Linked DNA regions of Homo sapiens: region 2 is linked to region 1. The links come from fine-mapping of genetic effects on gene expression. A gene starts in region 1. The other region holds a variant in brackets. All regions are shown on one strand. Distances are between the middles of the regions. Region 1 holds the start of CCDC40 (coiled-coil domain 40 molecular ruler complex subunit). Region 2 has its middle 18 kb from the start of EIF4A3.

The links. PIP is the estimated chance that this variant, and not a neighbour inherited with it, causes the effect.
Region 2: its variant is the best candidate, but not a certain one, in a credible set for the expression of CCDC40 in gastroesophageal junction (GTEx, PIP 0.54).

What each region holds. Positions count from the first base shown.
Region 1 is chr17:80,034,765-80,039,285 of GRCh38, forward strand. It overlaps CCDC40 (coiled-coil domain 40 molecular ruler complex subunit), which reads left to right and starts at 1,878. Exons shown (of 20, transcript NM_017950.4): 1 at 1,878-1,927; 2 at 3,359-3,422. The coding sequence starts at 1,899. It overlaps TBC1D16 (TBC1 domain family member 16), which reads right to left and starts at 1,108. Exons shown (of 12, transcript NM_019020.4): 1 at 1,031-1,108. RefSeq lists a silencer at 1,107-1,176 and enhancers at 1,367-1,486, 2,386-2,680.
Region 2 is chr17:80,126,525-80,130,779 of GRCh38, forward strand. No RefSeq gene overlaps it. Among named protein-coding and RNA genes, the nearest start is that of EIF4A3, 18 kb to the right of the region's middle. The variant T/G (reference allele first, on the strand shown) is at 2,231.

The DNA of each region.
Region 1 (4,521 bases):
AAGTGTTCTGATCAATCAGTAACAGATTTGGAATGGAATCTCCAGCCCCCAGTCTTTGCGCCCACCCTCTGGCAATATGCCGCCTCACGTGAGCATCTTTAAGACGGAGTTCCCTTTTTATTCCAGATAAAAGAATTAGGAGCCTTCTGGTAGAAAAGAAAGCAGATCTTCAGGATCAAGTCGCAGAGGCTGGCCAATCAGCCCAGCTTCTCATTTGAACTTGACCCAGACAGTAAAACAAACTTTACCATAAGGCGAGACTAACTTTTGTTATGTCTTTTCTATTCATTTCCTATTTCTGAATCAAATCTGAACTACTTTGTGGCCAATATACGACACCAGCTTCCGAGTGTGGGAATCACAGGATTTCAGGATTCAGCGGCTTCCGGCAGGATCCCCTAGGTTATGTTTAGCAATCTTCAGTTGCCTTTCCTTTTTTTCTTTCCTTCCTTTCGTTCTTTCTTTCTTTTTCTTTTTTTTTTTTTCCCAAAGGAAAGAACAAGGGAGCCCAGGCGGAACGGAAGTGAGTATCCCGACACGCGGATCTTAAACAGCCCAGACCACCAAGCCCGACAGGCCGGGAAAGCTGAGCGCGCGCTGCTGGGGGGACGCACACTTTGGAGGCTGTGTGGGCGCGCGCCGGCACCCCACAAGTTCTCATCCGTCTGCTCCGCCGATTCAGCCAGACAAAGACCGCAAGTTCCCCGGTCCACCGCTCCAGACAGGCGGGGACCAGTCTCCCCGAATTAGGCCCATTCCGGGCCCGGGCGCCCTCACTCGCCGCGGGGAAAAGTCCCCAGGTGCCCCTCCGTGATCCAGGTCCTCCCACAACGCTCCCGCTCCTGCTGGCGCCCCGCACCCCGAGGACGGCGGCCGGACCCCGGCCCCTCCCCGGTCCCGCGGCTGCAGGCCCACGCGCCCCACGCGCCCCGCGCGCCCCCGCCCCAGCTCCGCCGAGGGGGCGCTGCTCGCTGCGCGGTGGACCCCTCGGACCCCGCCCCCGCGGCCCCGTCCGGGCCCCGATACCCACCCGGGTCCCGCTGCGGGGGCCGGATTCGCGCCGGCTCCGAGAGCCGCCACCGTCGCCTCCGCCGCTGCCGCCGCCAGTGAGGCGCGGCGGGGCGGGGACGCGCGGGGAGGCCCGGCCCCCGGCCCGCCCCCGGGCCCGCCCCCGGCCCGGCCCCTGCCTGCCCCCGCCGGTCTCCCCGCCCACCTTCTGGCCCAGCCCTGGGCCCAAGCCTCTAGTTCCCTGCTGGCCCTCCCTCAGGCCTCGCCGCGTCCCGGCCTCGGGGACTGTGCCCCGTCCCGAGCCTGGCGTCCCCAAAGGAAAGGCAGGGCTCCTCGGACGCTCCGCGTGCGCGCTGGCCCTCCGCTGCCGCCCTCTGCAGGGAGATTTCTCCTATTTCGGACTAGGAAGGGAAGATACGCTCCGGAAGACCCCCCGGGCGTCCATGCAAGGAGTCTCCGTAGGACCCCTGGAGAAGGGCACCGGAGCCCCCTAGGGCAGGAGATGGAAAAGCGCTCGCCATGCGCGGGGTCCCCGGCCCCCGGTGCCCCCAGCCCGCCTGCCATTCCCGGGCGCTTAGCAGTCCGGGGTCCCCAGGTGCCCGGCAGGTCCCTTCGGGACCTCGAGCCGCCCGCTGGGCACACGCTGACGCCGCTGTCGCTTTACAGAAATTGAGCGCAGCCGAGGCGGGACCCGGGCGCAGAGAGCGATAAAGGAAAAGCATGGTCGTGCTCTAATCATTACAGTCTAAGGGACGACACGTCGAGACGGCGCGCGCCTCTGCGTGCGTGGAGATGGCACAAAGGCCGCGCCGCCCCCGGCGGCCCCCGCCCTCGCAGCGCGCGTGGTCCCGGCCCGGCCGGATGTTGACAGCGTCGCCTAGCAACGGGAAATGGCGGAACCGGGCGGCGCGGCGGGCCGGTAAGCCGGGCCGAGGGGCAGCGGGTCTTGGAGTCGCCAGGCCGCGCTCTCCGTTCACCGCTCCAGGTGGCCCCCGCGTCGGCTCCTGCCTCGCCCCTTCGCCTCCACTCCCCCTTCCTCTCGCCTGTGTCCCTTCTCTCGCCATTTTGCTGGCCTTTCCCGTCCACTGCGTTCAGCCCCTCACCCCCCCGCCAACCCTTCTCACTTCTCCCCTCCTGTCCCTTTGTCCTCTCTCGGCCTCCCTCTTTCCCCTACTCCAAGCGCGCGACTCCCTCTAAAACCCGGGACCGCTCACTCTGCAGTCACCATGGCAACCACTCTGCGTGGCGGTCCCTGCGCGCAGTCCTCCTAAGAGTAGAGGGCTCTGCAGGGCGCGGGGCTGTTGGATACCGCCCCTGACCTTGCTCCGGGGCCACTCGCTGTGGCCGGAGACCAGCCCGGCCCCGCGCCTCCCTCCTGCAAGGACAGATCCCCTCTCGCAGGCTTGGGGGTGACCCGCGATGGGAGGGGTCCCTGCGGTTAGGCGGCCCGCGATAGTCCGCGGTCACCGTCCTGGGGCCTGGGTGGAAGCACTGAGCGCGCACAGGGAGGGCGGCTGAGTGAAGATCCCTGCCACCGGGCCTCTGCTCGCTTAGGCTCTGTTTAAAAGGATAGAAACGATTGGAAAGAGTTTGGCCTTTTTACCTTAGACACATCGGTATTGTTTCATTTTTTTAAAGGTGGGTCTGTATGTATTGACATGGAAAGACTAAAGGTATTATTAATAAAACGATAGGCATAAATGTAAAAGGGTAGGTATACTATGATCTCTAATTCAGGGTGTGTGTGTGTGTTTAAAACATAGAAAAATGTTGAAAGAATGTGGTCCTAAATGTTATCAATGATTATCTTGGGAAGGAAAGGGAAGATCACAGGGAACTGTCACTGTCTGTCTCTTTGAACATATCTATATTCCTTTGACAGATAAAAATAGCTTGAATCTTTAATTTTTTAAAAAAGATATACATATATATATATATATATATATATTCCTGTGCTACGTAAATCGTGGAGAAACTCAGAGTCCCCAGAACACTTACTCTGATCGCGCTACTTTCTCTACGTTGTATTTCTTTTCCCCAGTTTTGTCCCAGACACAAGTTATATTTGAGGTGACTTTTCTGGGGTGATCTAATCCTGCTGTTCCTTCGATGTTTTAATAATTATATTTTTCATTCATTCATGGAGCTTTGCTTTTGTGGCATCTCCGCCACCTGACAGGCATGATATAGTGCTATGGTTCCTGACAAACAGGACAAAGACGTGACAACAGCCTGGGGGTGGCAGAGAAGTAACAAGTAAATAAACAGATGTGCAGAATTCAGGAGGGGATAAGGACCAAGAAAAAGAAAGCTGTTGCTTGAAACTGTTCAATTGTTTCTCTAAAACCAGGTCCCATCCGGAAGATGGATCGGCTTCTGAGGGAGAGAAGGAAGGGAATAATGAAAGCCACATGGTAAAATTCCCTATGGGCAGTTATTCCGGGCTTATATTTACTAGGAATTAAAGAGAATCAGAGTACGGGCACTGTGGCTCACGCCTGTAATCCCAACACTTTGGGAGGCCAAGGCAGGTGGATCACATGAGGTTAGGAGTTTGAGACAAGCCTGGCCAACATGGTAAAACCCCATCTCTACTAAAAATATAAAAATTAGCCGGGCGTGGTGGTGCGCACATGTAGTCCCAGCTACTCGGGAGGCTGAGGCAGGACAGTGGCTTGAACTCGGGAGACAGAGGTTGCAGTGAGCCAAGATCACACCATTGCACTCCAGCCTGGGTGACCAGTGAAACTCTATCTCAAAAATAAATAAATAGGCCGGGCACGGTGACTCACGCCTGTAATTCCAGCACTTTGGGAGGCCGAGGCAGGCAGATCACGAGGTCAAAAGATCGAGACTATCCTGGCCAACATGGTGAAACCCTGTCTCTACTAAAAATACAAAAATTTGCCAGGCATGGTGGTTCACGCCTGTAGTCCCAGCTACTCGGGAGGCTGAGGCAGGAGAATGGCTTGAACCTGGGAGATGGAGGTTGCAGTGAGCCGAGATTGTGCCACTGCACTCAGCCTGGCGACAGAGCGAGACTCCATCTCAAAAAATAGATAAATAAAATTAAATTAAAAATAAATAAATAAAGAGAATTAGGACTTGGTCAAGTATATTGTATGATGACATTATCTTGCACCAGAACAAACTCAATTCAGTTGAAGAGAGACTCATTTTCTTCCTACCCCATTCTACAGTGTCAGTGATTAGTCAGGGATGCAAAGGATGTCCAACTTTGGGTTGCCCTGAGTTTTTCGGAACTCATTTCCTGTAACAAAGGATGCAAAAATGATTATGAAAAGCAGAGAGGGCCAGGCATGGTGGCTCACGCCTGTGGTCCCGGCACTTTGGGAGGCTGAGGCGGATGGATCTCTTGAGGCCAGGAATTCAAGACCAGCCTGGCCAACATGGTGAAACCCCATCCCTACTAAAAATGGAAAAATTAACTGGGCATGGTGGTACACACCTGTAGTCCCAGCTACTTGGGAGGCTGAAGCAGGAGAATCGCTT
Region 2 (4,255 bases), 92 kb after region 1:
TCCATAGGTCAGAAATTTGATACAAGGGCTCTCCTGGCTGAAATCGGGGTGTCAGCAGGGCTGCCTTCCTTTCCAGAAGCTCCAGGGGAGAATCCGTCTCCTTGCCCACATGGGCTACTGGCAGAATTGTTTCATGCAGTTGTAGCACTGAGGTCTCTGTTTCCCTTCTGTCAGTCAGAGGTCCTTCTCAGCCTACAGAGGCTTCCCCCATATCTTGGCTCATGCCTTTTTCAACCCCAGAAATGAGGGACTTGAGTCCCTCTCATGCCTGTCCTTCCTTCCATCACATCATTCTCTGACCAACCATAGCCAAAGAATAGTCTTGACTTTTAAGGGCTCATGAGATTAGATTGTGTCCACCTAGATTATCCAGGATCCCCCATCCAAGATCCTGCACTTACTTCTGCAAAGTCCCTATTGTCATGTAATGTGACATATTCACAAGGTCCAGAGATTTGGACCTGGCAATCTTTGAGGACAGTTATTCTACCTACCACATAAAGCTTCTTTATTGGGCCAGTGTGGTGGCTCCTGCCTGTAATCCCAACACTGGGAGACCGGGACAGGAGGAGTTCTTGAGCAGGAGTTAGAGACCAGCCTGGGCAACACAGCAAGACCCCATCTCTACAAAAAGCAAAAAATTAGGCCGGGCGCGGTGGCTCACGCCTGTAATCCCAGCACTTTGGGAGGCCGAGGCGGGTGGATCACGAGGTCAGGAGATCGAGACCGTCCTGGCTAACACGGTGAAACCCCGTCTCTACTAAAAATACAAAAAATTAGCCGGGCGTGGTGGCGGCTGCCTGTAGTCCCAGCTACTCGGGAGGCTGGGGCAGGAGAATGGTGTGAACCCGGGAGGTGGAGCTTGCAGTGAGCTGAGATCGTGCCACTGCACTCCAGCCTGGGTGACAGAGTGAGACTCTGTCTCAAAATAAATAAATTTAAAAACTAAAAATAAAAAAATAAAAAATTAGATGCATGCAGCAGCACATGCCTGTGGTTCCAGCTACTAAGGAGGCTAAGGTGGAAGGATTCCTTGATCTCAGGAGGTCGAGGCTGCTGTAAGCTATAACTGTGGCCACTGCACTCCAGTGTGGGTGACAGAGCTGGACTATCTCAAAAACACACACACACACACACACACACACACACACACACACACAACCAAAAATCATTATGCTTTCCCCATAAAACTGCTTAAGTGCCTTTGTTGGAAATCCATTGACCATAAATGTGTAGTCTTTCTGAACTTTCTACTGTTTTCCCTGGATCTACAACAGGTCTATATTTATGACTATACCACACTGCCTTTGCTACTGTAGCTTTATAATATTTCTTGGTATGAGTAGTAGCTTGGTGCACTTTTCCAAAGTTGTTTTGGCTATGCTAGATCCTTTGTATTTTCATATAACTTCTAGAACTAGCTTGTCAATGTTTAGCCCTATCCCCACTCTCCCAAAAAAGGCTTCCTGATATTTTGGTTGGAATTGTGTTGAGTCTGTACATCAACCTGGGGAGAACTGATGTCTTAACAATATCGACTCTTCCAATCTGCTCAGTGTATCTCTCATTTATTTACATCTTTAATTCTCACAGCAACGTTTTGTAGCTTTCAATTACAGAGCTTGCTCATCTTTTGTCAAATATACCCCCAAGTATTTCATGTATTTGATGGTACTGTATATGGTGGTGTTTTCCAAATTTCCCATTCCAAGTGTTCATTCCTGGCATATAGGAATACAACTGACTCTTCTATATTGACTTTGTAGAATGCTACCTTCCCGAAACTCAATTATTAGTTCCAGTAGCTTTGTGGTAGACTCCTTAGGATTTTCTACATAGAGAAACATATAATCTGTGAAGAAAGCCTTCTTCCTTTCCACCCTGGAGGCCTTTTCTTTCTCTTGCCTTGTTGCACTGGCCAGAATCCACAGTGTAATATTGAACAGAAGGGAGAGGACACCTGTGCCTTGTTCCTGAGAGGGTTACTGAAAGCCCCAATTGCCACTGTGGATTTGTCTATTTCCCCTTGCAGTTTTATCCATTTTTCCTTCCTATATTTCCTGTATTTTGAAGCTGTTATTAGGTGCATAGGTATTTAGTATTGTTATATCCTTTTAATGAATTACCCCTTTATCATTATCAAATGACTCTCTTTGTCCCTTGCAATATTCTTTGCTCTGAGATCTCCTTTGTCTAATATTAATAGAGCTGCTTCAGGTTTATTTTGATG[T/G]GTGCGTTACCATGGTGTATTTTTCTCCATCTTTTCACTTTTGTCTTTATATTTCTCATAAGCAATAGTATATAGTTGTGTATGGCTTTATAATCCAGCCTAACAATATCTGTCTTTTAATTTTGCAGTAGGCAATTTGCTTGTTTTCCCTTGCTCGTGCTTTTTGCTTTTTAAGTGTAATTTTAGAGGATGCATGAGATTCCTCATGATATTTGTGCTGAGATGTAATTCACATGCCATAACATTTACCATTTTAAAGTATGCAATTCAGTTGTTAGTACACTTGTACAACCATCACGATTATCTAATTCCAGAACATTAGAATCACCTTCAAAAGAAACCCTATACTCATTTTCAGCCACTCCTTGTTTCACCCATCCCCCTCCTCCCCCCTCAAGCTCCTGAAACCACTGTGAATGGTTTCCTGCTAATCTCTCTATGGATCTACCTGTTCAGGACGTTTCATGTAAATGGAATCACACCACGTGTGGCCTTTTGTGTCTGCCTTCTTCCACCTAGCATATTGCCGAGGTTCATCCAGGTTGTAGTGTGTCAGCACTTCATGCCTTTTTATTGCCAAGTAATATTGTGTGGATTCACCAGTTTTGCTTACAGCTGATGAACATCTGGCTTGTGTCCACTTTTTGGCTCTTATGAACAATGCTATGAACACATTAGGTTTATGTGTGCAGATTTTTTAATTCTCTTGAGTATAGACCTAGGAGGAGAATTGCTAGGTCAACTCCTATGTTCAACATTTTGAGGAACTGCCAAGCTGTTTTCCATAAAGGCTGTGCCTGTTTACAATCCCACTAGCAATGTATGGGGGTTCCAGTTTCTCCACATTCTCCTAAACACTGCAGAGCAGTATATTAGTCCATTTTCATATTGCTATAAAGAACTGCCTGAGCCCGGGTGCTTTAAAAAGGAAAGAAGTTTAATTGACTCACAGTTCAGTGTGGCTGGGGAGACCTCAGGAAACTTACAATCATGGTGGAAGGCGAAGACGAAGCAGGAACCTTTTTCACAAGGTGGCAAGAAGTGCCAAGTGAAGTGGGAAGAGCCCCTTATAAAACCATCAGATCTTGTGAGAACTCACTATCACAAGAATAGCATGGGGGGAACTGCTCCCATGATTCAATTACCTCCACCTTGTCTGTCCCTTGACATGTGGGGATTAGGGGGATTACAATTCAAGATGAGATCTGGGTGGAGGCACAAAGCCTAACTAACTATATCAATCAGTTTGGGAAAGTTATCTTCCAATCCATGAACCTGGGACATTTATATATTTAGGTTTGCAATGCCTTTCAACAAGCTATTTGTAGTTTTCGGTGAACAAGTATAGCCCTTCTTTTGTTAAATTTATTCCTACATATTTCACTCTTTTTGATGCAATTGTAAATGGAATTATTTTCTTAATTTCATTTTCAGGTTGTTCAGACTGCTAGTGTACAGAAACACTGGCTTTCCTATGTTGAACATATATTCTGCAACCTTGCTGACCTCATTTATAAGTTCTGATAAGTGATTTTTTAAATGTGTAAATTCCTTAAGATTTTCTAGGTATAAATCATGTCATCCGTGACTAGAGAGTTTTGATTCTTCCTTTCCGATCTGGATGCCTTATTTCTTTTCTTGCTTAATTGTCCTGGCTCGTAACTTCCAGTACAATGTTGGAATAGACGTGGCAAGAGCATTCTTGTTTTGTTCCCAACCTTAGCGGGTAATGCTGTGGTTTTTCATCGATGCTGTTTATCAGGTTGAAGCAGCCCCCTTCCATTCTTATTTTCTATCTTGAAAAGGTGCTGGATTTTGTCCAATGCTTTTTCTGCATCTGTAAATCATTATGTGGACTTTGTCCTTTATTCTATTGATAGGGTGTATTACATTGACAGATTTTTGGATATTAAACCAACTTTCCATTCCTGCGATAAATCCCACTTTGTCAGTGTACAATCCTTTTTATATGTTGCTGGATTTGTTTTGCCAGTTTTTTGAGGATTTTTACATCTATATTCATAT